Linked DNA regions of Homo sapiens. The protein of the gene in region 3 purifies or fractionates together with the protein of the main gene of each other region. This does not show direct contact. Each region holds a gene or a part of one and is shown on either strand. Other genes may lie near its edges. The genes, in order: MAN2B2, WDR73, NXPH3, DNAJC3, CNTNAP1, CRELD2 and GUSB.

What was found.
Region 1: the proteins of NXPH3 (region 3) and MAN2B2 purify together in Homo sapiens (affinity purification with mass spectrometry; one large-scale study listed by BioGRID and IntAct). This does not show direct contact.
Region 2: the proteins of NXPH3 (region 3) and WDR73 purify together in Homo sapiens (co-immunoprecipitation; one large-scale study listed by IntAct). This does not show direct contact.
Region 4: the proteins of NXPH3 (region 3) and DNAJC3 purify together in Homo sapiens (co-immunoprecipitation; one large-scale study listed by IntAct). This does not show direct contact.
Region 5: the proteins of NXPH3 (region 3) and CNTNAP1 purify together in Homo sapiens (affinity purification with mass spectrometry; one large-scale study listed by BioGRID and IntAct). This does not show direct contact.
Region 6: the proteins of NXPH3 (region 3) and CRELD2 purify together in Homo sapiens (co-immunoprecipitation; one large-scale study listed by IntAct). This does not show direct contact.
Region 7: the proteins of NXPH3 (region 3) and GUSB purify together in Homo sapiens (affinity purification with mass spectrometry; one large-scale study listed by BioGRID and IntAct). This does not show direct contact.

What each region holds. Positions count from the first base shown.
Region 1 is NC_000004.12:6,581,689-6,585,188, reverse strand, and holds part of MAN2B2 (epididymis-specific alpha-mannosidase isoform 1 precursor), read right to left. Parts: intron 1-3,500.
Region 2 is NC_000015.10:84,641,535-84,644,283, forward strand, and holds part of WDR73 (integrator complex assembly factor WDR73), read right to left. Parts: intron 2,190-2,749; coding exon 1,936-2,189; 3' UTR 1-1,935. UniProt on the Homo sapiens protein: Component of a multiprotein complex required for the assembly of the RNA endonuclease module of the integrator complex. Associates with INTS9 and INTS11 in the cytoplasm, stabilizing the INTS9-INTS11 heterodimer and blocking the active site of INTS11.
Region 3 is NC_000017.11:49,578,871-49,581,598, reverse strand, and holds part of NXPH3 (neurexophilin-3 precursor), read right to left. Parts: coding exon 2,299-2,728; 3' UTR 1-2,298. UniProt on the Homo sapiens protein: May be signaling molecules that resemble neuropeptides. Ligand for alpha-neurexins.
Region 4 is NC_000013.11:95,680,139-95,683,638, forward strand, and holds part of DNAJC3 (dnaJ homolog subfamily C member 3 precursor), read left to right. Parts: intron 1-3,500. UniProt on the Homo sapiens protein: Involved in the unfolded protein response (UPR) during endoplasmic reticulum (ER) stress.
Region 5 is NC_000017.11:42,696,031-42,699,530, reverse strand, and holds part of CNTNAP1 (contactin-associated protein 1 precursor), read right to left. Parts: coding exon 3,379-3,500; intron 2,258-3,378; coding exon 2,164-2,257; intron 1,978-2,163; coding exon 1,732-1,977; intron 1,629-1,731; coding exon 1,581-1,628; intron 914-1,580; coding exon 621-913; 3' UTR 1-620. UniProt on the Homo sapiens protein: Required, with CNTNAP2, for radial and longitudinal organization of myelinated axons. Plays a role in the formation of functional distinct domains critical for saltatory conduction of nerve impulses in myelinated nerve fibers.
Region 6 is NC_000022.11:49,924,836-49,928,037, reverse strand, and holds the end of CRELD2 (protein disulfide isomerase CRELD2 isoform b precursor), read right to left. Parts: intron 2,622-3,202; coding exon 2,481-2,621; coding exon of another isoform or gene 2,368-2,480; exon of another isoform or gene 1,470-2,367; intron 784-1,469; coding exon 731-783; 3' UTR 501-730; downstream 1-500. UniProt on the Homo sapiens protein: Protein disulfide isomerase. Might play a role in the unfolded protein response. May regulate transport of alpha4-beta2 neuronal acetylcholine receptor.
Region 7 is NC_000007.14:65,960,184-65,962,698, forward strand, and holds the end of GUSB (beta-glucuronidase isoform 1 precursor), read right to left. Parts: intron 881-2,515; coding exon 714-880; 3' UTR 501-713; downstream 1-500. UniProt on the Homo sapiens protein: Plays an important role in the degradation of dermatan and keratan sulfates.

The DNA.
Region 1 (3,500 bases), on a different chromosome or scaffold from region 3:
TGTGGGAGGTGAGGAGTGGGGCTGGCATCAGGTGCACAGCAGAGGTGAGAGGGGATCAGGGGGAGCGTGGACTAGGAGTGTGGGTGGAGGCTGTGCATATGTAAGCAGAGAGGATGGAGAAGGAGCAGCCAGAGGGTGGGGGGAGCACAGGGGGAGTGCCAGCTGCAGGATGAAGGAGGGAGTGGGCAACAGCACCGCACTGAGAGGAGCCAGGAGCTCTGGAGGGTACGGCCTCGCACCAGACAGGGCAGCCGGTGGGGGCAGGCTGAAGGCTGCCAAGTCAGCACCCCTTTTTCACTCGCAGAACCTTCCCTCTGTTCAGGGTGCACCATGCCCAGCCTCAAGGGACGAATCACAGTTGATCTAAGCCAAATGTGGCACGCTTACTCCCTCCTGTCAGATATTGGTTCTCTCTGTCTGGCAGCTGGAGGGGCATTGTTAAGTAATGAACTGGGAGGCCATCAGGCTGAGCCGGCTCCAGGCCTCGAGTTCCTCTGTCAGCAAACCCAAATCTAACTTGGTGGAAACAGGAAAAGAGAACTTAAGCTTGACCCATCGGAAACTGCCAACCAACCTCTAACTAGGGACTGTTCACTGTAGGCAAATGTTTTCTTTGTCTTGCTTTCAGGAGCACCTTATAGACGTTTCCCTCTCATATTCCCTTAGTGGAGCCATGAACTGCTCACAGTCTAGTACTTCCTGATTCAGGAATCACTGTTTGTTCAAATAAATGCTAACATTTTAGTGTGTCTAAGTTTATCCAACAGAATAGACTATGGGTATAGAAAGCCCCCTCTCTTCCTTTTACTGCCTTGAATGTGGTGTCTGGTAACATGATGGCTGGAGCTATGGCAGCCATATCGTGACCACAAGGGTAAGGACATGAGAATCACAGATATCAAGGTACTGCAGAACCAGTCCCAAACTATCCCCATCTTGTTAAGTAAATGTTCTTAAGACTCAAGTCGCTTTGTTACAGGTAGTTAGACAAGCATGAGTGGGGCAGGGGAGGGCTCTTCCCCCACCCACTAGGAATGTTGGGTGATGGTTTGGCAATTATCACATTGCCTCTCTAGAAGTGAGAAATTGGCAGCCAGCACTAGGGAGAGGGCATTTCCTGATGGTCCACACCTGTTGCACTAACATGTTAATTGAATGCAGGTGCCAGGGAGACGTGACTTCCCGAGCAGGTGCATTAAGAGACAAAATGGCGGAGTTTGACCTTCCAGGGACACTCCACTGGAAAAGGGAAGAAAGCGTCAGATGGGCATGTGTGCAACTTCCTAAACACAGTGCGTGTGCTCACCTCCCAAGGGTAAGGAGGGCACTGTGAGTGCGGGTAGCCCAGCCTAAGGGAAGAATCATGGGAAAGGGGACCAGCCTATAAAGTCCTAGGATCAAGGATCAATACAGCACTTGACCTTCACGTGCCCACTTGGGACTCTTTCAAGCATATTTTCCTTTCTTTCTCATTTTAAAGCCTTTTTAAATAAACTTCCACTTCTGCTCTGAAACATGCCTCAGTCTCTTTTTCTGCCTTATGCCCCTCAGTCGAATTCTTTCTTCCGAGGAGGCAAGAACTGGGGTTGCTGCAGACCCGTACGGATTAGCTGCTGGTAACTTGGATACCTTCCACCACTAACAGCTTTACTTAGGTTTTCTGGCCGTCCAGCAGAAAGCATTCCTGAGACTTCAGGGTGATTCATGACCAAAACTGTTAATTGGCGTCCGATATACATTCTGTCCTTCTTCCTTTTAGTAACAGAACCACACACTCCTTCTTGGTTTTAGCAGGGCAAATGGACTCCCAGCCAGAGACTACATTCCCCAGCCTCCTTTGCAACTGGTAGAGGTCACATGACACCACTCTGGCCAATGGACTGGGAGCAAAATAGACTCTATTCCCCAGCAGTCCCTGCAGTTGAGGGAGGCCATATGATTAAGTTCTGGCCAATGGAAATGTGAGGAGTGATGTGGGCAGGTTCTAGGTCGCCTTTTACAAGGAAGCTGCCTGCCCTGGCTCCACCATTCCCTATCCCCTAGCTGCTGGAAGGACAACTCAGTGGGGTGAGCCAGTCTAGACTGCAACTCAGGCAGGCAACACTGTGGGGGATGGCTGAACATCAAGATGGAAGCAACGTGGATCCCTGGGTCACTCCATGGAGCAGAGCCACCCAATCACCAGAGTGGCCTGCACTGCAGACTTCCACAGGAGAGAAACACACCTTCCTTCTTGTTGGAGTCACTTGGTCTCTGTTCAAGCTGCTGAACCAGTATCCTCACCAGTATAATGACCAGGCCACAAGCAAGCTCACTAGCACATGCAGGGCAGAGGCCAGGATGCAGGGGCTGAGGGTGAAGTAGTGGGAGGTGGTGGGGGGTGAGGGGGTGGTGGGAATAAATGCCATTACAGCCTGAGCTGGAGGGTCTTGCTTTATGATGTTGAGGTCAGGAGTTCAAGACCAGCCTGGGCAACACAGTGGACCCCATGTTAAAAAAAATTTTTTTTTGAAGAGAGACAATTTAAGTGTGTTTTCAATACTGCTGGGGGCCGGGCTTGGTGGCTCAGGTCTGTAATCCCAGCATTTTGGGAGGCCAAGGTGGGCGGATCACTTGAGGTCAGGAGTTCAAGACCAGCCTGGCCAACATGGTGAGATCCCTGTCTTTACTAAAAATATGAAAATTAGCTGGGCATGGTGGTGCACGCCTGTACTCCCAGCTACTCAGGATGCTGAGGCATAAGAATTGCTTGAACCTGCGAGGTAGAGATTGCAGTGAGCCGAGATTGCGCCACTGCACTCCAGCCTGAGTGACAGAGTGAGGCTCTGTCTAACAACAACAACAACAGCAGCAACGGCAACAACAACAACTAAATACTGCTGGAAGGAGTCAGAGAGACAAGAGAAGGTGGAAGAGAGTCTGTGACACAGGAGAGGGATCGCGGATTCAGTGGGAAGGGAGTGGGGTTGGGGGACAGGGCTGAGAGCTTGGGTTTGAATGGCCAGGACAGCAGTGGTCATCCAGGATGGCCCAAGGTGTCTCCTTGACTCTCACCTGGACCCTTTGCCTCTCAGCACCTCTGAGGCGGGAGCTGGGCTCTCTCCCCTCAGGATAGGGGTGAGGGGTTCTTTCCCTCTGGCACCTGCCACTCTGCTGGGCCTCCGCTAAACATCCCAGCTGGGAAAGTGTCCCCTCAGGGAGGGGCATGAAAGCTCTTACCCCCGGGGGCCGCTGCCCACACCCAGCCTTTCCCTGACACTGCAGTGCTGGGAACAAATGCTTTTCCCCTCACTAGAAATGTCACATCTAAAATTAAGGTGGTGTTGGCGTGACTGCCGGGAGCAGGAGTTGGGGAGGTAAAGGCTGGAAAGGTGAGCTTACGGGCAGGCCCAGTGCCCCAGGCCCTGGCGGGCAGCCAGGAGTGGGTCTTGGTTGAGGAGATGCTTTGGCACCCTAGATACCCGAAGAAGAAGGTCAGAGGTCTAGAGGCTGCACCAGCC
Region 2 (2,749 bases), on a different chromosome or scaffold from region 3:
ATGGAGTCTCACCCTGTCACCCAGGCTGGAATGCAGTGGCACAATCTCGGTTCACTGCAGCCTCTACCTCTCAGGTTCAAGCAATTCTCCTGCCTCACCCTCCTGAGTAGTGGGGATTACAGGTGTGCCACCACCATGCCCGTCTCTAATTTTTATATTTTTAGTAGAGACGGGGTTTCACCATGTTGGCCAGGCTGGTCTTGAACTCCTGACCTCAAGTGATCCACCCACCTTGGCCCCCCACAAAGTGCTGGGATTACAGGCGTGAGCCACTGTGCCTGGTCTATCTTTAAATTCCTATCTGAATTTGTTTAGGTTTTTTAAATAAAAATCTTTCTTTTTTTTTAGAGACAGGGGTTCACCATGGTGCCCAGGCTGATCTCGAACTCCTCCTGGACTCAAGCTATCCTCCCACCTCAGCCTCCCAAAGTACTGGGATTACAGACATGAGCCACATGCTTGACCTGAATTTTAACTGCAGTTAATTATCACTTAACCAGCGAATTCACACAGGAGAAATCCCCTGGCCGGGCGCGGTGGCTCACACCTGTAATCCCAGCTCTTCGGGAGGCCGAGGTGGGTAGATCACAAGGTCAAGAGATCAAGACCATTCTGGCCAACATGGTGAAACTCCGTCTGTACCAAAAATACAAAAATTACCTGGGCATGGTGGTACGTGCCTGTAATCCCAGCTACTTGGCAGGCTGAGGCAGGAGCATTGCTTGAACCCATGAGGTGGAGGTTGCAGTGAGCCGAGATCACGCCACTGCACTCAAGCCTGGGTGACAGAGCAAGACTCCATCTCTACTACAAAAAAAAAAAAAAAAAAAATTCAACCACCTTAGGAAGCCTCTCATTTATGTATTTCTAGCATGTAATTAGTGTTGCACATGGGAAGGGCTAATAGATGCTGACAGAGTGAACAACTTATCTATTTTGTGTGTGTGTGTGTAACAGGGTCTCATTCTGTTGCCCAGGCTGGAATACAGTGGCATGATCACAGCTCACTGCAAACTTCAACTGCCAGGCTCAGGCAACCCTCCCACCTCAGCCTCTTGAATAGCTGGGACTGCAGGCTCATACCACCACAACCAGCTAACTTGTATTTTTAGTAGAGACAAGGTTTCGCCATGTTGCTCAGGCTAGTCTCGAACTCCTGGACTCAAGTGATCCACCTGTCTTGGCTGCCTACATTGCTGGGATTACAGGCATGAGCCACCATGCCCAGCCAAATTTTTTTTTTTTTTTAAGGGAAGGGATCTTGCTATGTTGCCCAGGCTGGTCTCAAACTCCTCAGCTCAAGCAATCTGCCCACCTCAGCCTCTGAAAGTGCTGGGATTACAGGCATGAGCCACCATGTCCAGCACACTTTAATATTCACTATGGGCCCTCAAAAGGAAATGTTTGTGGGGCCACCAAAAGCAAATGTCTCTTGAACCTAGTCACCTGGGGGGACAAGTGTGGGAAAGTGCACCTGTGTTCCCATGAGACCCACTCAAGAGGAGCAGAAATCCTGTTTTGCTATTTCCTTAATTGCTACTAGGGCTGGGATTTTTTCATGTTTATTGGCCCCTCTACATTTTTTTCTTTAAAAAAATTCACAAAGCATGTTTATATTTGTTAGCTCTTTTGATTCTCCCTATGATAGTGTGAAGACAGGGACAAAACGCTACCATTTCACACTCCCAGATCTAACAATAGCTACCAAGTAATTATGCCATGCGTTTCTTCTAACCTTCGCAATATCACTACGAGGTAGTTCTTACTATCCTCATTTTACAGATAAGGAAACTGAGGCTAAGTGACGCTGGCAGACTTGCCCAAGGCCACACAGCTGGTAACAGGGACTGGTAGTCACTTGAGTCCTACATGAGCACCCTTGCTACTACAGCAGCTCCTCCCCTTTCTAGAGGCCTAGATGGAAAGATGCTGGTGTCAGCGGGGGGCACAAAGGTCCACCCAGTCCCACACATGCAGAGAGGCATCATTTGTTGCTGATAACAAAGTCCTTGGTCTGCAGGGATGCCAGGTGTGGGTGGTGACCAAAGGAGCAGGGTCCATCCCATTTCCATCTAGGAAGATGTGACCTCTGTGAGTGAAGAGAGGTTCTACTTGGCTCCGTGTTCCATCTTGGCTCCGTGTTCCATCCCAAGATGTGGCATCATAGACCTGGACTGTACCATCAAAACCTGAGAATACAGAAAAGAGAGGCTTGACAATGAGTCCCTAATTTTATTTTAAAATAATTTTCTTTCTATTTTTAATAGAGATGGGGTTTCACCATGTTGACCAGGATGGTCTTGAACTCCTAGCCTCAAGCGATCCTCCCATCTCAGCCTCCCAAAATGCTGGGATTACAGGCACCCAGCCCCTAAAATACTTTTTATAATTTGTTCTATGGTACCAAAACAGGCTATTGGATGAGGAATCAAGGCACTTAAAAGGCTAACCACGGGCAAGTAGCATCTGCCCTCAGTGTTGGCAGCTGATGACTCCGTGGGGCATGTAACCATGAGCATCCGTTGTGCACCTGTTATGCGTGAGGCTCGAAGGCTAATTCTGGACAAGTATTAGCTCTTTTAATCCTCAGAACTGTATGACACAGATACTGTTATTTTACCCAGGAAACTGAGGCTTAAGAGACTTCTTCAAACCTTTTCAAGTTGCCCCAGAGTCCAGTCCCCTACCTCTGGGTCCCTTTCAGCAGATGGCCTTGTCTCCTACTCGATGGGGGAAACAGAAGCCTTTG
Region 3 (2,728 bases):
GTGTGTCTCACATCTCCACTCAGGAGAGACGGCCCCTGGAAGCATGATGTGGGGGAAACAAGCTGGGTCATTTCCTACAAGGTGGGCTGTAACCAGATGGCTTCTCAGCCCCACCCAACTCTGCGCTGCAGTATGAGGGGACCAGTTTGCGCGGAGCGCTGGTGGGCAGGGGCGAAAGGTGGGGGGTGGCAAGCCCATCTTACCTTACTGCCAGGACTCTCCTCTCCTCAAGAGGGCCCAAAGGGCCCTGAGTGCTGCCCTCCCAAGAGAGCCGACTTAGAATGACCTCCAGAAGGCACTGTGACCTTGGTAGTGTCTTCCCTTCACAGAGTCCCAAAGGGCCCAACTAACTCCCAGACAAGGTGCCACTGGCAGCTGGCCATTCTGAGGCCTCTTACTAGCTGCAGGAGGGGAGTGACTGACGCAGGCCCTGTGTCCACACCCCACTCCAGCCTGTTCCTTCACTGGCATGTGGTCAGATTGAAAATCCAATACAATAGCCCCGATTCTCTGAAAGGCCCCTTCCCCAGGAGAAGCAGATGGAAATTACAGCTGGGAAATCACATCCGAGGTGTCTCCCCCTCCTGCGGAGCCATAGCCAGAGATGAACTTCAAGGTCCTTTGAGTGGGTCTCCCAGCATGGGCCCTGGAGCAGCAGCATCAGCATAGACCTGGGCACTCGTTAGAAATTCTAATTCTTAGGCCCCACCCAGGCCTGCTGAATTAGAAATGTGGGTAGGACCCAGAAATCTGTGTGTTAACAAACCCTCTGGGTGATCCGCGTTTGAGAACCCCTGGTCTGGGCAAGCCCTTCATGTCATAGAGGAAGAAACAAAGAAAGAAAGCCAGAGAGGAGAATGGACATGGCCAAGGCCACGCAGCAAAATGACGGGGCTAGGACCCTGCTGGGTCTGCAGATGGCAGTTCAGGGAGGACACCAAGGAACACCCTCATTGGCCCATTCTACCTGCTAGCTCTCCCTCCCTGAGCTGTTCTTGAAGATGCTACGCCCTCCTCCAGCACCGAGCCCAGGGTGTTTGCTCAAGTTTCCTCGTGGGGGATCAGACAGCTTGGAACCGGGGCTGGAGAGGGAAGCCCTGAGCCCTCAGCAAACATCAGCGCCAAGGGCGGTTGGATCCCTGCCACTTGGGTCTCAAGCAAATGTCCTGCGGCCATCAGAGAAATTCTTCCTGGACCAAGGGATGCCTGAGGCCCTTTCCTTGGACAACTCTGACTCCAGTGCCCCGGGGCAAGCTTTATTTCCTGCTCCAAGAACACGATTCTTCACACAAAAGTCAGCAATCAGCGGTTTCACAAGACTTCCCTCCCCTCCCCCCACCCACAGACAGACACACAGAACAGATCCAGCACATGCTCTGCGGCCCGGCCCCGCCCCACCCGTGCCCGCTGCTGAGAGGGCGGCGCCATCCAGATCCGGGAGAACCCCGGTCTGACAGGTGAGGCTGACTGTTGAGGGACCCCTCTCCGGGACATGGATGCTCCCAGAGGAGCCAGCAGGGGTTGGGGTGGAAGAGGGACACACAGCACGCGGATGGGCTGTGGCCTTAGTGTGGGAGGACCACAATCGTCCTGTCTTAGCTTAAGGATGGGTGTGCCATCAGCAATGGGTGGTACAGGGGGAGTACTGGCAGAAGAGGGAATTTTGGAAAGGGGTGGCCTGGCTGGAGACAGATGGTCAATCTGTCAAGACATCAAAGACCCCAGGGTTGCCACTTCAGCCTCATGCCATGCTCAGCACACGACAAGGGGCTGAGGGCGCCCACTAGGCAGGGCTGGAGAGCTCCTCTGGCCCCACCCCACCCTGCTGACTGGCTCCTAGGAAGCCCTCTCAGCCATCCATCCTAAGTTGACAGGCTGTCCACACTGATGAAATCTCCCCCTCCCTGTTGCTATCTTTCCTCAGGATGGCAAGAACCAAGGGCTTAGCTTCCTCCCATGACTTGATCTGGGGCCACACTGATCGGCCTGCCCACAGGCCTCGGGGACCCAGCATCTCTCTGTGGCTCCGTGGCAAAGCCCTGTGAGGCTGCACAGAGAGCCCACTCCTCCTCCAGTGCTCCTGTGATCTAGTCACTCCACAGCTTCAGGTTGGGACCAGCACTTGGGACCCTTTCTCTGCCACTTGAGACTTGGCCCTGGCCCCACTTGGCATCTCCTCGTCTCCACCCCCCTCCCTGCCTGAGGCCCAACCCCTTCCCTGCCCGGTGTCCAGATGGTCTCCTGCATGGGCAGGCCTGTCCTTCCAGCCCTGGCCTGGCCTCTGTGGCCTGCCCCGGGTCACCCAGATGGGTAGTAGGGGGTATCACTATGGTAGTTGTAATCTGGGCACACCTTCTGGACCAGCCGATAGTCCGTGCTGTAGAAGGCGATGTAGACACAGACGACTTTGAAGGGCTGGGAGCAGCTCCAGGTGGCTGAGCTCTGAGCGTGGTCTCGGGAGCAGATCTTGGCTGGGTCGTGGGTGCAAAGCGAGGTCCGGCGGCCCCGTTCTACCTTCTCCCACTCCATCCGGCAGTTGAAGATTTTGGAGGCCTTGGCTTCGATGAAGATCTGCTGTTCCTGGTGGAACTCTACAGCTTTACTGGGGGGCACGAGGCTGATGGAGATGTTTCCCTGGCCTGTGGCATTGTGTTGGAAGTGGACGCTGAAGGTCCCATTGCCATGGTCCACAATCTTCCCTGTGACGAGCAGGTTCAGGGCCACCGTC
Region 4 (3,500 bases), on a different chromosome or scaffold from region 3:
TAAGGAAGTTATTTCATTTCTTTGCTAATGGTTTGTCCTCTTGGTGACTTGAGTAGCAACACAGCCTGGGAACGAAACCTTTTTTCTCTTATCATAGTTTTATCTCTTTTTCTTCCTTAACATGCTATCTGGACCCAATTTTTCTTTATTTCATTGAGCTGATTAAACCATATATTTTGGCCATGGGGAAAAGAATAGTTGAAAATATATAGTTGAAAATCTATACGTATAAAATATTGTGATAAGTTTTATTTGAACCATGATAAGTTTTATTTGAACCTAACCTATTAAAGGTATGTTTTGTCTTTTCTAGGATTTTCTTGACATTATCTAAATAGGGAAAGAATAAAGTAGCAAAAATGAGTGACTTTAAGTAATTTAAATAAATTAAGTATCATAAAAGGTGGTCACATATTTTCTAGAATTATTTTAAATTCTTTAATAAGATAGGCTGTAGTTAGCAGTAGTATCAAAGTTCCAGTTCTCTTGACATAGTTAGTATTTGCTGAGAAACTGCCTGGAAATGCAGTGGTTTTCATTCTGTGAGGTAGGGGAAGTTGTTCTGGGAGGGGATGCACTGTAGTAATTAGGTTTTATTTTCCCATATGAAGTTAATTAATTGTTGTTAAGTTTAATTTCTACTGCTGTGGTCTCTTTTGATTAGTGTCCTGCAGTTAATCTTTGTTTATATGGAAGTATCATGGGAACCCATTCACCTGCTCTTCAGAACGCAAACATTTCAACCATAGATTTATTTTTCTTTCCATATCTTTAGAAAGCTACTTAAAAAAATTAAATCTGATGAGTTTGTATCATTTGGAGTTCTGGAATATGGAGAAGACTCATTTAATCAGTCAGCAAAGGCTTTTACTAACTATATTGCTCTTTGGTGAGGTATATATACGTAGCATAGAACTCATGGCTTTTGCTTTTGAGTTTACAGACCACTTAGGGTTTAAGACATGCATTTGTGAAGCATTCACGTCCTCTTTTTCTCCTTTCCCGCTTTAGACTGAGTGGTCCATTATTGTAGTTAGTGTACTGCAAATGCCCATTTATTTTCTGGCCCCTGTAATCTTCTGTTTTACTCACCTGCCAAAACCCAACACTGGTTAAATTCAACTTGGCCAACTGTTTTTATACCTTATAGGTAAACACGGACGGAGGAAAATGGAGACAACTTTGCTGATTAGTCTCATTTATCTTTATTTTTATTTTCAATTTTTTTTCGAGACAAGGTCTTGCCCTGTCACCCAGGCTGGAGTGCAGTGGCATGATCCTAGCTCAATGTAGGCTTGACCTCCTGGGCTCAAGCAGTCCTCCCATCTCAGCCTCCTGAATAGCTGGGACCACAGGTATGCACCACTGCATCCCCTACTAAGTTTTTAAAATTTTTTGTAGGGACAGGGTCTTCTATGTTGCCCAGGCTGGTCTTGAACTCCTGGGCTCAAGCAATCCTCATCCCTTGGCCTCCCAAAGTGTTGAGATTACAGGCACGAGCCAATGCACCTGGCCCTGATTAGTCTCATTTTAAAGAAACAATCTCAGTCGCAAATGCACATTAAATACTGCTAACACTCCCACAATTCTTTACTATGTCTATTCTTGAAAATCAATATTTCAAACATTTTCCTCCTTTCTGAAGCCTCTAATTTAAACTCTCCTTTCCTCTCTCCCCTACCTCATTCTTTTAGACCTTGTCTTTACTGAGAAAATGAAAGCCATCACAAGGCAAGTTCTTCTTTCTACCTCAAAATTCACTAGCTTATCTACATTTGTACCTATTCTGCTACTTTTTCTCATATTGAAATACATTAAATGTCTCTATTCCCAGATAAATCTAATCTGTGTACTTACACCCTGGATTCCATTTCCTCTCACCTTCTGAAAATGTTGCTCCTACAGTTGTATCTTTGTGCTGCTATAACAAAATACCACAGACTGAGTAATTTATAAAAAAAATTTCAACCTGAATTTTGGAGAGAACATTCAGATAATAGTAGATGCTGAACTTCCTGTACTATCTTTCTTTGGCTAGATTCCACTGTCTTCTGTGTTTCTGCTACAAGACTTCTTTTAGACTCTACCCCACCTTGCTAGAGTCTTGGCTTAGCCTTCTGTTCTTTTTTAGAGAAGAAACTTAGGGCTTTCCTCATTCCTCATATTCTAAGTGCTCCAACCTGAATAACCATCTCTCTCTCTGGGATTGCTCTCTGGTCTGGGTCTGCCACCGCCTTTGCTTGAACTTTAGTATCTTTGACTATGAGTTCTTGCCTCCTTTAGTCTGGTTCTTCCAGTCTTGATTGTAACTCACGTCATACCTTTAACCCCCCACCTTTAAGTTTAAAAAAATCCTTATTTTCTGCTCTCCAAAATATAAGATATTCTAATACTAATTTCAGTGAAAGACATAGTTGGCTACTCTACCTTTTTCCCTGCCCTTGCTGCTTATTTTGCTGACTTATGATCACTGCTTGTCTAAGGAGAAACCTATTGTCTAATGCTGATTAGGAAATGGCATGATGTTTGGTTGTCTTACCTCTCTGAAAATAATGTTTACAGACCATGTGGCAAAGGAATAAAAATTACCTGTGGCTCAAAAGAGAGTGGATTGCAAAAACAGCCAATAATTCGCAAATAATTTGATTTTTCAGATGTGTCTTTATGAATCATTGATCATATGTTTGACTTGATAATTGTTATGTATTTTAGATTTTATTCTGATGAATTATAATACGTTTAAGTAAAAAGGCAAATAGTTAAATTCATTCAACAAATATTGCATACCCACTATGTGCGGGATACTGAATTAGGTGATACAAAGAAGAAAAGACAGCTCCTCCTCTCAAACTTGCTTTTGATAAGTTTTGTGGAGTTGGGACTTTGAGAAGCAGGCAAATTGTGAAAAGCAATATATAGAGAGAGTGATATTGCAAAGTGAAGTCATGTACTTCTGAGTGTGGAAATGCAAAATATAGGAAGATTGAAGGAGCTTTTTTTCCCTCTCTCAAAACAATACAGTGTGAGGGAAGGTTTCACAAAGGAGCCAGCATTTGAGGGCAGAATCTTTTTTTTTGTTTAACTTTATTTTATTTTAGATTCAAGATATACATGTGCAGGTTACATGGGTATATTGTGTAATGGTGGGGTGGTATGATTTAGATCTGTGCCCCACCCAAATCTCATGTTCAGCTGTAATCCCCAGTGTTGGATCTGGGGCCTGGTGGGAAGTGATTGGATCATGGGGGTGGTTTCTAATGGTTTAGCACCATCCCCCAGAGCTGTTATTGTGATAGAATTCTCACAAGATCTGGTTGTTTAAAAGTGTGCAGTATCTCCCCCCTCTCTGTCTTCCTCCGGCTCTGGCCATGTGAAGATGTGCCTACTTCTCCTTTACCTTTTGCCATGATTGTAAATTTCCTGAGGCCTCCCCAGCCATGCTTCATGTACAACCTACAGAACCGTCAGCCAATTAAACCTCTTTTCTTTATAAATTACCC
Region 5 (3,500 bases), 6.9 Mb from region 3:
TTTTTATGGCTTTGGCTAAAGCAAGTGAAGCAGCGGAGGTACTAAGGTGCTAAACTGAGGCCTCTTGGTCTCTGTGTACAAAACAAAAGGAGGGGGGCAGGGGACAGCCATCAAGCCCTCTTGAGCCTCCAGCTGAGTGGAAGCAAATGGAAGATCTTCAGGGCAGGGGGGAGGCTGGGGGATAGGGTTTAGCAGCCTCCTCCCCCCATACCCTCTGCAGCCCTGCACTCCCACACATCTGTCCCTGCTGATAGTGTCTATTGGAAGGGAGGCAGTTAATCTCCCCTACACTCTGTTGTTAATCCCTGACAGCAGCTGGAACAGAGATGGCAGAAAGGACCTATGTCAACCCCATGAGGCTTCTCCTTTGGGGCAGATAAACAGCCAGGAGCCTGGGGAAACAGGGATGAGAAGGGCATTGGTTTAGGCAGTGAGGCTCGGCCACTCCCTTGGGTCCCATCTGTAGCTCTGCCCACCAAACTTGATGGGGGGGGGATGGGGGAATATCCTCTGGATGAGCAGAGCCAGCTAAGAGGAGCCAAATGTCCCTGATAGGATGGGGGAGAGGCAGGACTGGGGGAATGTCAGGAGCTGGAATTGGTCCCAGAAGCCCTTCTGACTCATTCAGACCTGGACTCCTCCAGGATCTGGGGTAGGTTCTGATCCCGGGGGCCAGGGGCTGGGGCTGGAGTTGGGGCTGGGGCTGGGGCTGAGGCTGGAGCTTGGTTGGGAGCTGCTGTAGGGGTGGGGACCTGGGCAGGGCCTGAAGTGGGTAGGGGAGGTTTGCTGCCAGGATGGTACTCGTGGGCAGCCTTGGGCTCATTGGTATGGTAGGAGCCCTTATAGCGATGATTTTGCAGATAGAAGAGCACCAACATTCCCACCAGCCCCAGCAGCAGAAAGGCCACCAAAACTGAAAAGAAGAAAAGGGACAATTCAGATCTTTGGGATCTCACCTGTATACACACACACACACACACACACACACACACACACGCACTCTTTGAGATTTCACCTGTATACATACACACACTTTGGGATTTCACCTGCACACACACACACACACACACACACACACACACACATTTACTTTTGGCCAAAAGCATAATGTATGACCCTCAGTTAGCTGTTCGACCACACTAAACTCATCTCAAGTGTCTGGCAGGTTTGAATTCCTGGCTTACCCCCTGCCACCTTCTGTTTCTAATATTCTCTTTCCACATCCCTGGTAGTTACCCCAATTTCTTATCTCTCTAGGTGTTACTGTATCCCCATTTTCCCATCCCTTAGCTATAGTCTCATTTTAATATTTTATTTAAAAATCTGTAGCATCCTCAAACATCTAAAAATCTCTGCCCAGTTATATGTCACCTTCAGCATAGCCTGTCTCATCCTCAAACATCTAAAAATCTCTGCCCAGTTATATGGCACCTTCAGCATAGCCTGTCTCATCATCCTTTGTGCCATTGTGCATCTAGTGCCTTTGCCATCCTGCAGCCTTGGGGATCAGGGGCAGGGAAAGGATGCTGACAGTCAGAGGGTAGTCTTGGGAGGTCAGCTTAGTGATCAGTGCTACTCACAGCCTAAAAGTATGGCAACCCATCCTTCATCATGGTAGTAGGGGAAGTCTGGAGAGGAGAAAGCACCAGTTAGGAGATGCCTCCTCCATGTTAAGAATCATTCCCTTCCGTGTCATCCCTCCCTTCTGTCCTCTGTGTCCTGGGAATGTACCTGGGGGCAGATACCAGGGATCAAGCTCAGGTGGCACCTCTGAAACAAGACGTGGCATAGCTCCGCAATTAGATTCGGACAGTTCTCCCTGAACTCGAAGGGCCTCAGCTAGCTCAGCAGTCATGGGTCGAGGGGTTCGGAAGTGGGTCTTGAGGGGAGCCACGTTGTTGAATCGAACACCAGACAGGCAGCCTGAGAAACCTGGGGTGTTGTAGCGCTGGATCTCCGGGTCAATGACTCCTGTCTCTGAGAGAGAGGCAGGCCCAGAAAGAGGGACTTGGACCCAAAGGCCCTGCCACTCTCACTGTCCACAGGTTTCCCACTCATCCTTCCCACTGCCCTCAGCCATTCCCAGGGCCTTCACTTTCCTTGAGGATCCAGGAACATATGCCACAGCTCCTTGCCTAAAACGCGTCCGCACCCGCAGCTTACCCATCACACGCCCTAAATACAAGGCCTTGGGTGAGTCCAACTGGCTGTCCACCAACAGCGAGAACTTCTGCTCTGTCAGTGGGAAGTAGTCCACCTGAGGTGGGGAGGGGGAGGGGGAGGGCGATGAGGGAGCGGGGACCAGAAGCAGATGCCTGTGGGCTGGACTGGAACTGTGTGGACCCTGGGAATATACTTGGGGGCAGATACTGGAGATCTCTCATTCTGTCCAAACTGGCGGTGCCAGCTGGGTGAGTCCTAGCTCAATCTGAAGTGGGCAACCCCTGGGCCTAGATGTAGGATTTGGTATATATATTTTTATTATTATTATTTTATTTTATTTATTAAATATTTTTCTTTGTGAAGATGAGGTCTTGCTATGTTGCTCAGGTTGGTCTCAAACTCCTGGCCTCAAGCAGTCCTCCCACTTCAGCCTCCCAAAGTGTTGGGATTACAGGTGTGAGCCGCTGCACCTGGCCTATATATTTTTTAAAACCCTGGTTTTAAGCCCCATCTTTGCAGCTTACCAGCGGTTTGACTTTGGGTAAACCACTTTATTTTTTTGAGATGGAGTCTCACTCTGTCGCCTAGGCCTGGAGTGCAGTGGCACGATCTCAGCTCACTGCAACCTCCACCTCCCAGGTTCAAGCAATTTTCCTGCCTCACCCTCCTGAGTAGCTGAAACCGCTTTACTTTCTGAGGCTCTTTACTGATTTGTAAAACACTTAAATAAGAATGCCTATTGTCTGGCTGGGCGCGGTGGCTCACGCTTATAATCCCAGCACTTTGGGAGGCTGAGGTAGGCGGATCATCTGAGGTCGGGTGTTCGAGACCAGCCTGACCAACATGGAGAACTCCTGTCTCTACTAAAAATACAAAATTAGCTGGGCGTTGTGGCGCATGCCTGTAATCTCAGCTGCTCGGGAGGCTGAGGCAGAAGAATTGCTTGAACCCGGGAGGCAGAGGTTGCAGTGAGCTGAGATCACACCATTGCACTCCAGCCTGGGCAACAAGAGCAAAATTCCATCTCAAAAAAAAAAAAAAAATGCCTATTGTCCCCTTGGAGCTATTGTGAGGGTTACATGAGGTGACACACGTGAAAATCCTCTATACATTCAAATGTGATCTACAAATATTAAGTATTTGATGTTTTCCTGGATGCCACAACGGAGACCATGAGGTTATGATCTGAACTGGCTCACCTCCCTCTATGCATACCTGGATGAAGAGGTTCCGGTAAACACGGGTGATATTGATGCTATGGGGCTGGCCATCGGTCACTGGTCGAGTGGTTAGCTGGTACACGTAGGGACTGGTGCCCAGCTGATATCGCAGCTGAA
Region 6 (3,202 bases), on a different chromosome or scaffold from region 3:
GGGACCAGGCCAAGTGGGACTTGGGGGCTATGAGGAGCCCAGGGAGGAGGCCATGGCCCCCCGGAACGGAGCTCCCAGAGCCTGCAGCCTCTCACCCGCAGCCAGCTTTCTTCTTGCAGTGTCTTCATTCCCAGATGAGGAACGGGCAGGCCCTGCGGTTTGTGAGTGGCTGTTTCCTCCAGCGAAGCCCCCAAAGATGCTTTTCCCCTGCCTGAGGGTCCCTGCTTGTACATCCTTTGAATCACTGAAGAGGGCCCATAGGTTGGACCCCTGAAACCCACCTGGTCACGTCTTCAGGTTCTCGCCCAAGGCAGGGCCCTCCCCTCCTCCCCCAAGCGGCACGTGAGCCCTGTTCAGGGACAGCAGAGCCACCAGCCCAGGACCGGACCTGCTGCCTCTGCGGACCTCGGCAGCCCTGGTCACTCCCGGCTCTGGCAGGACAGGTGCAAACTCAGTGGTAAAGGTCCGTCCTGATTAATGAGACAAACCCACGCCCGTTCTCCTCCTGATTACCTACAATGGTCAATTTTATTACAAAGAACTGTATCAAAATATACAAGTCTGTTTAAGAACAACCAAGAAATGCAGCTGTTTAAGGGACAAATGAGAATCAACCGTTAGAGAGCAGGCAGCCTCTCCCCGCCGCTGTCCACTGCAGGAGACGGCATCCTCAGGGCCACATTTTCCACGGGACATCCTTCTGAATAATTTAAAGGGTAAGTCCGGCACATTACAGGTCTTCGCGGGAGGGCAGCTGTGTCGGGCTTTCTCCTTCTGTGGCTTCTGTCAGAAAACAAGCATAGGTCGTCAAGGCTGAGCACAAAGGGCCCTGGGGATGAGGCCTTTCCCAGGACAGCAGCGCATGTGCAGGGCCTGCCCGTCCAGTCCTGGCTCAAAGCCCCGGACGCAGCCATCCAAGGGCAGCTCGGAGACCCCCGTTTCCCACAAAGCAGATGAGAGATGAGGCAGACGGCATTTCAGAGCCCCCACGCTGCCGTGGGTGTGGAGGATGCAGAGTTGGGAGCGGCAAGGGGTTCCTTGCGGCCTGGCAGAATGGGAGCCTGAACAATGGTTGTGGCGGGAGGAGAAAGAGGGGACCGAGGGTGGGGGAGGTAGGAGAAAGAGGGGACTGAGGGTGGTACGGGGAGGGAGGGGCAAGAGGGGACCGAGGGTGGGGGGGAGGGAGGAGAATGAGGGGACGGGGGGGAGGGAGGGGCAAGAGGGGACCCGGGGTGGGGGGAGGGAGGGGCAAGAGGGGACCCGGGGTGGGGGGAGGGAGGGGCAAGAGGGGACCCGGGGTGGGGGGAGGGAGGGGCAAGAGGGGGGGAGGGAGGGGCAAGAGGGGACCCGGGGTGGGGGGAGGGAGGGGCAAGAGGGGACCCAGGGTGGTGGGAGGGAGGGGCAAGAGGGGACCGAGGGTGGGGGGAGGGAGGGGCAAGAGGCAGGGCCAGCCCAGGGCAGAGGGGACCGAGGGGGTAGCAGGCAGCCTTGTCTTCTGGCCTGTCCGTCTCTGCTAACCCCTCAGTTCTGTCTTGCTGTTGCTGTTTACTACGATGCTTCTAGATGTGGAATTGCTTTTATTTGTCCTGCTCAGGAAACAGCTTCTGGAATCTGAATCGTGCCTTATTCATTCTGAAAAACCCTTAGCCAATATCTCCTTGAACACTGCTTCTTTCCCACTCTCTATATTCTAGACTTCTGTGAGGACTGTCACGGGCAGATTTATGTCCCCCAAAACACGCTGAAGTCTTTACTCCCAGTACCTGTGATTGTGACCTTGTTTGGAAATAGGGTCTTTACCACTGGCCAGGTTAACATGAGGGCATTAGTGACTGGTGTCCTTACAAAGAGGGGAGGTTTGGACAGAGACAGACACCCGCATGGAGACCACGTGAAGACACGGGGAGCAGGTGGCATCCCCAGGCGAGGACAGAGGCCCGGAACAGACGCGCCCACCCAGCCTCCCAAGGAAGCAGCCTGCTTGCGTCTGGGCCTCTGACTTCTGGCTCCTGTGAGCGGCACATTTCTGTTGCTGGAGCCCTAAGTTCCTGGTTCTTGGTAAGGTAGCCCCAGGAAACAGGTGTGGGGGACCCGCTTGCCCTCCACCACTTCCTGCCTGTCCCTGTCTCTGCGGCACCCTGGGCAGCTTCCCCGGATGACTTTTCCAGCTCTTTAGCTGCCTCTTCTCCTGCGTCTGCTCCTCTGCTCATCGCCCGCTGAGGTCTGAGCTTCAGAGACTTCCCCCTTCATCGCCTGAACTTCCGTTTGAGCTGTGAACCTGGGGCTTCATCCTCAGGAAGCCAGTACCTCTCGCGCAAGCGTGCCCACACAGAGATGTCATGCACCTGTCTTCCGGGAATCCCCCTCTCACCATCTCAAGGCCACCATCTGTGTGGATTTCAGACCAAGCAGCCAGTCTACGTGCAAGCCCTGCGGCCCAGGGGAGGGCAGCCTGTGTGGAGGGCAGCCGTGCCACTCACCAGCCTCTGCCGGCGGCACACAGGCATCTTCCGTTTCTTCGAAGCCGTCAGGACACACACAGACGTAGCTCCCTGGAGTATTGTAGCAGTTTTCGTTTTTCCTCACACAGGTTTTTTCTGCTAGTGAGCACTCGTCCACATCTAAAATGAAAAGACTCCGTTTTAATAATTACTTTGCTCAGCAGACGCGCAGCGGATTATGAAATTCATTCATTCAGATTCATTCACATAAAGAAAGCACAACGATGACAAACGTCACGTTACAGAAAGGAGCAAAGATCAGGAAAGGCTTCGAGAGGGAAGAATTTCACGTCTCCAAGTTGGGCCCTCAACTGGTAGAAAATGCAGAGAAGAGACCTCCAGGTGGGGCCGGAAGGCCAGCATGCGCCCAGGAAGCCCACTTTCTTTTCCTTTTTTTTTTTTTTTTGAGGCGGAGTCTCGCTCTGTCGCCCAGGCTGGAGTGCGGTGGCGCGATCTCCTCTCACTGCAAGCTCCGCCTCCCGGGTTCACGCCATTCTGCTGCCTCAGCCCCCCGAGTAGCTGGGACTACAGGCGCCCGCCACCACGCCCGACTAATTTTTTGTATTTTTAGTAGAGATGGGGTTTCACCGTGTTAGCCAGGATGGTCTCGATCTCCTGACCTCGTGATCCCCCCGCCTCAGCCTCCCAAAGTGCTGGATTACAGGCATGAACCATGGCGCCTGCCCAGGAAACCCACTTTC
Region 7 (2,515 bases), on a different chromosome or scaffold from region 3:
TTGTAGGCAAAGTTGTTTAAGGAGGTCCTGTCACATTCAGTGGCATCCGTTATGATAAAGCCAATAGGCTTTTACACTCATCTGTCCATTTCTGTCAAGACCCTATGGCTGAGGTCAAAACAATGTTCTGGGAGAACCAGTTACCTCTAACCTTCCAATTCAGACACTGCCAGCTTAACTATGTAGAAACTGGCACACAGACCCTGTTAAGTGCTGCAACAATGACAGCGTTTCTATGAATTTGTTGGTACATGTGGGACTTTAGCTCATCTGAGGAGTCGAACAGCAGCTGTGAAAGTCTTCTACTCACTCCCTGTCGAGGCTGGCCTGGTTTGCTACACAAACACGGTGGCCCTAGGACCATGGGGCTATTCCTGCAGACGCCCTCGGGAACCAGCTGCTCTGAACGTGGTGGGGGTGTTGGAGCAGCAGTTTCTCAAAAGTCCACACACAGTTAAAGCTCTGAAAACAGCACGACGCACAGAAATGATTTCAGATGCTTTTCAGTAGCCACTTTCATGCCAACTCTTTATTTCCATAATAGAAAATCTTTTATTTCCACCTTTAGTGTTCCCTGCTAGAATAGATGACCACAAAACCCAGGCCAGAAACGTTCTGGTCTGCCGTGAACAGTCCAGGAGGCACTTGTTCTGCTGCTGTGGAAGTCGCCCTGACTCGGGGAGGAAGGGACACGCAGGTGGTATCAGTCTTGCTCAAGTAAACAGGCTGTTTTCCAAACATTGTGACTTGGCTACTGAGTGGGGATACCTGGTTTCATTGGCAATCTTCCAGTATCTCTCTCGCAAAAGGAACGCTGCACTTTTTGGTTGTCTCTGCCGAGTGAAGATCCCCTTTTTATTCCCCAGCACTCTCGTCGGTGCTACAAAAAAAAAAAAAAGACACAAAGCGATTCAGATGTCTTCTGATGGGTCAAGTTAGAACCAGTCTGGAGCTAAGGTAGGCACTAAATAGAAATGTCTTTTTTTTTCTTTTTTCTCCCTGTTGCCCAGGCTGGAATGCGGTGACACAATCATAGCTCACTGCAGCCTCAACCTCCTGGGCTCAGGCAATCCTCCTGCCTCAGCCTCTCCAGCACCACCATGCCCGGTAATCTTTTATTTTTATTTTTTAGTAAAGACAAGGTCTCATTATGTTGTCCAGGCTGGTCTCAAACTACTGGGCTCAAGCAATCTGCCCTCCTTAGCCTCCCTAAAGTGCTGGGATTATAAGCACAAGCCACCATGCTCAGCCAAATGTCCTCTTACAGTTTCAGGATGCTTGCTCTGAAGTGACAATTTATGGGTTGAAATATTTAAATACCACTGCTCTGCCCAAACACCCAGGTTCCCTGGTGTGTTAATTTCTAGTTTTCTAGTCTGTTAGGGGAAAAAAACCCAAAACAGTGGCCAGGTGTGGTGGCCAACGCCTGTAATCCCAGTGCTTTGGGAGGCTGAGGCAGGTGGATCACCTGAGGTCAGGAGTTCAAGATCAGCCTGGCCAACATGAGGAAACCCGCCTCTATTAAAAATACAAAAACTGGCTGGGCACATTGGCTCATGCCTGTAATCCCAGCACTCTGGGAGGACAAAGCAGGCGGATCACAAGGTCAGGAGATTAAGACCAGCCTGGACAATATGGTGAAACCTCATCTCTACTAAAAATACAAAAATTATACAGGCATGGTGGTGGGTGCCTGTGGTCCCAGCTACTCAGGAGGCTGGGGCAGGAGAATCGCTTGAACCCAGGACGCAGAGGTTGCAGTGAGCTGAGATTGTGCCACTGCACTCCAGCCTGGGCGACAGAGTGAGACTCCATCTCCAAAAAAAAAAAAAGCACTAAAAGTTTATCTTTTATTTGCAAACTAAGGTTTACATGCTGGGTACCCAGCTGTCTGGTAACTGGGTAGGCAGAGGGCTAGGGGTATCTGGGACAGTTACCCTTGAAAAGCCTTGGGCCTTTCTGAAGAGATAGCGCCTAGTGGGAGCCAGGGTCCTGACCAGCCACAGGTCCCTGCGTGGGACCTACTCATGGAGTTCAAAGTCCGCCGGGGCTGACGTCCAGCTTGGCAGCACCCACCACTGGTGGTCATTAGGCCTGAGCTGAGCCTGGTGGAGGAGCACAGCTGGCAACGACCTGTCAGGGCTGTGCTCTCAGGACATTCTCTGTCCCCAGTAAGACCACCACTAAATGGAAATGTTAAATGGAAAGGGGGCTTTCCCCACCAAAAGGTTCAAGACTGTTTCTTCCATAAGTGAACACAGGCATCGCCAAGTACTTCATCAAATGCAGCCCTTACGACACCAACAAGGAGGTGGCATTATCCCCACTGGACAGGCTTATGAAAAGCTTAGGTGACTTGCCCAACGTGATGCAGCTCATTTCTTTTTTCTTTTTAAGACCGAGTTTCAGCTGGCCATGGTGGCTCATGCCTGTAATCCCAGCACTTTGGGAGGCCCAGATGTGCGGATCACCTGAGGTCGGTAGTTCAAGCCCAGCCTGACCAACATGGAGAAAC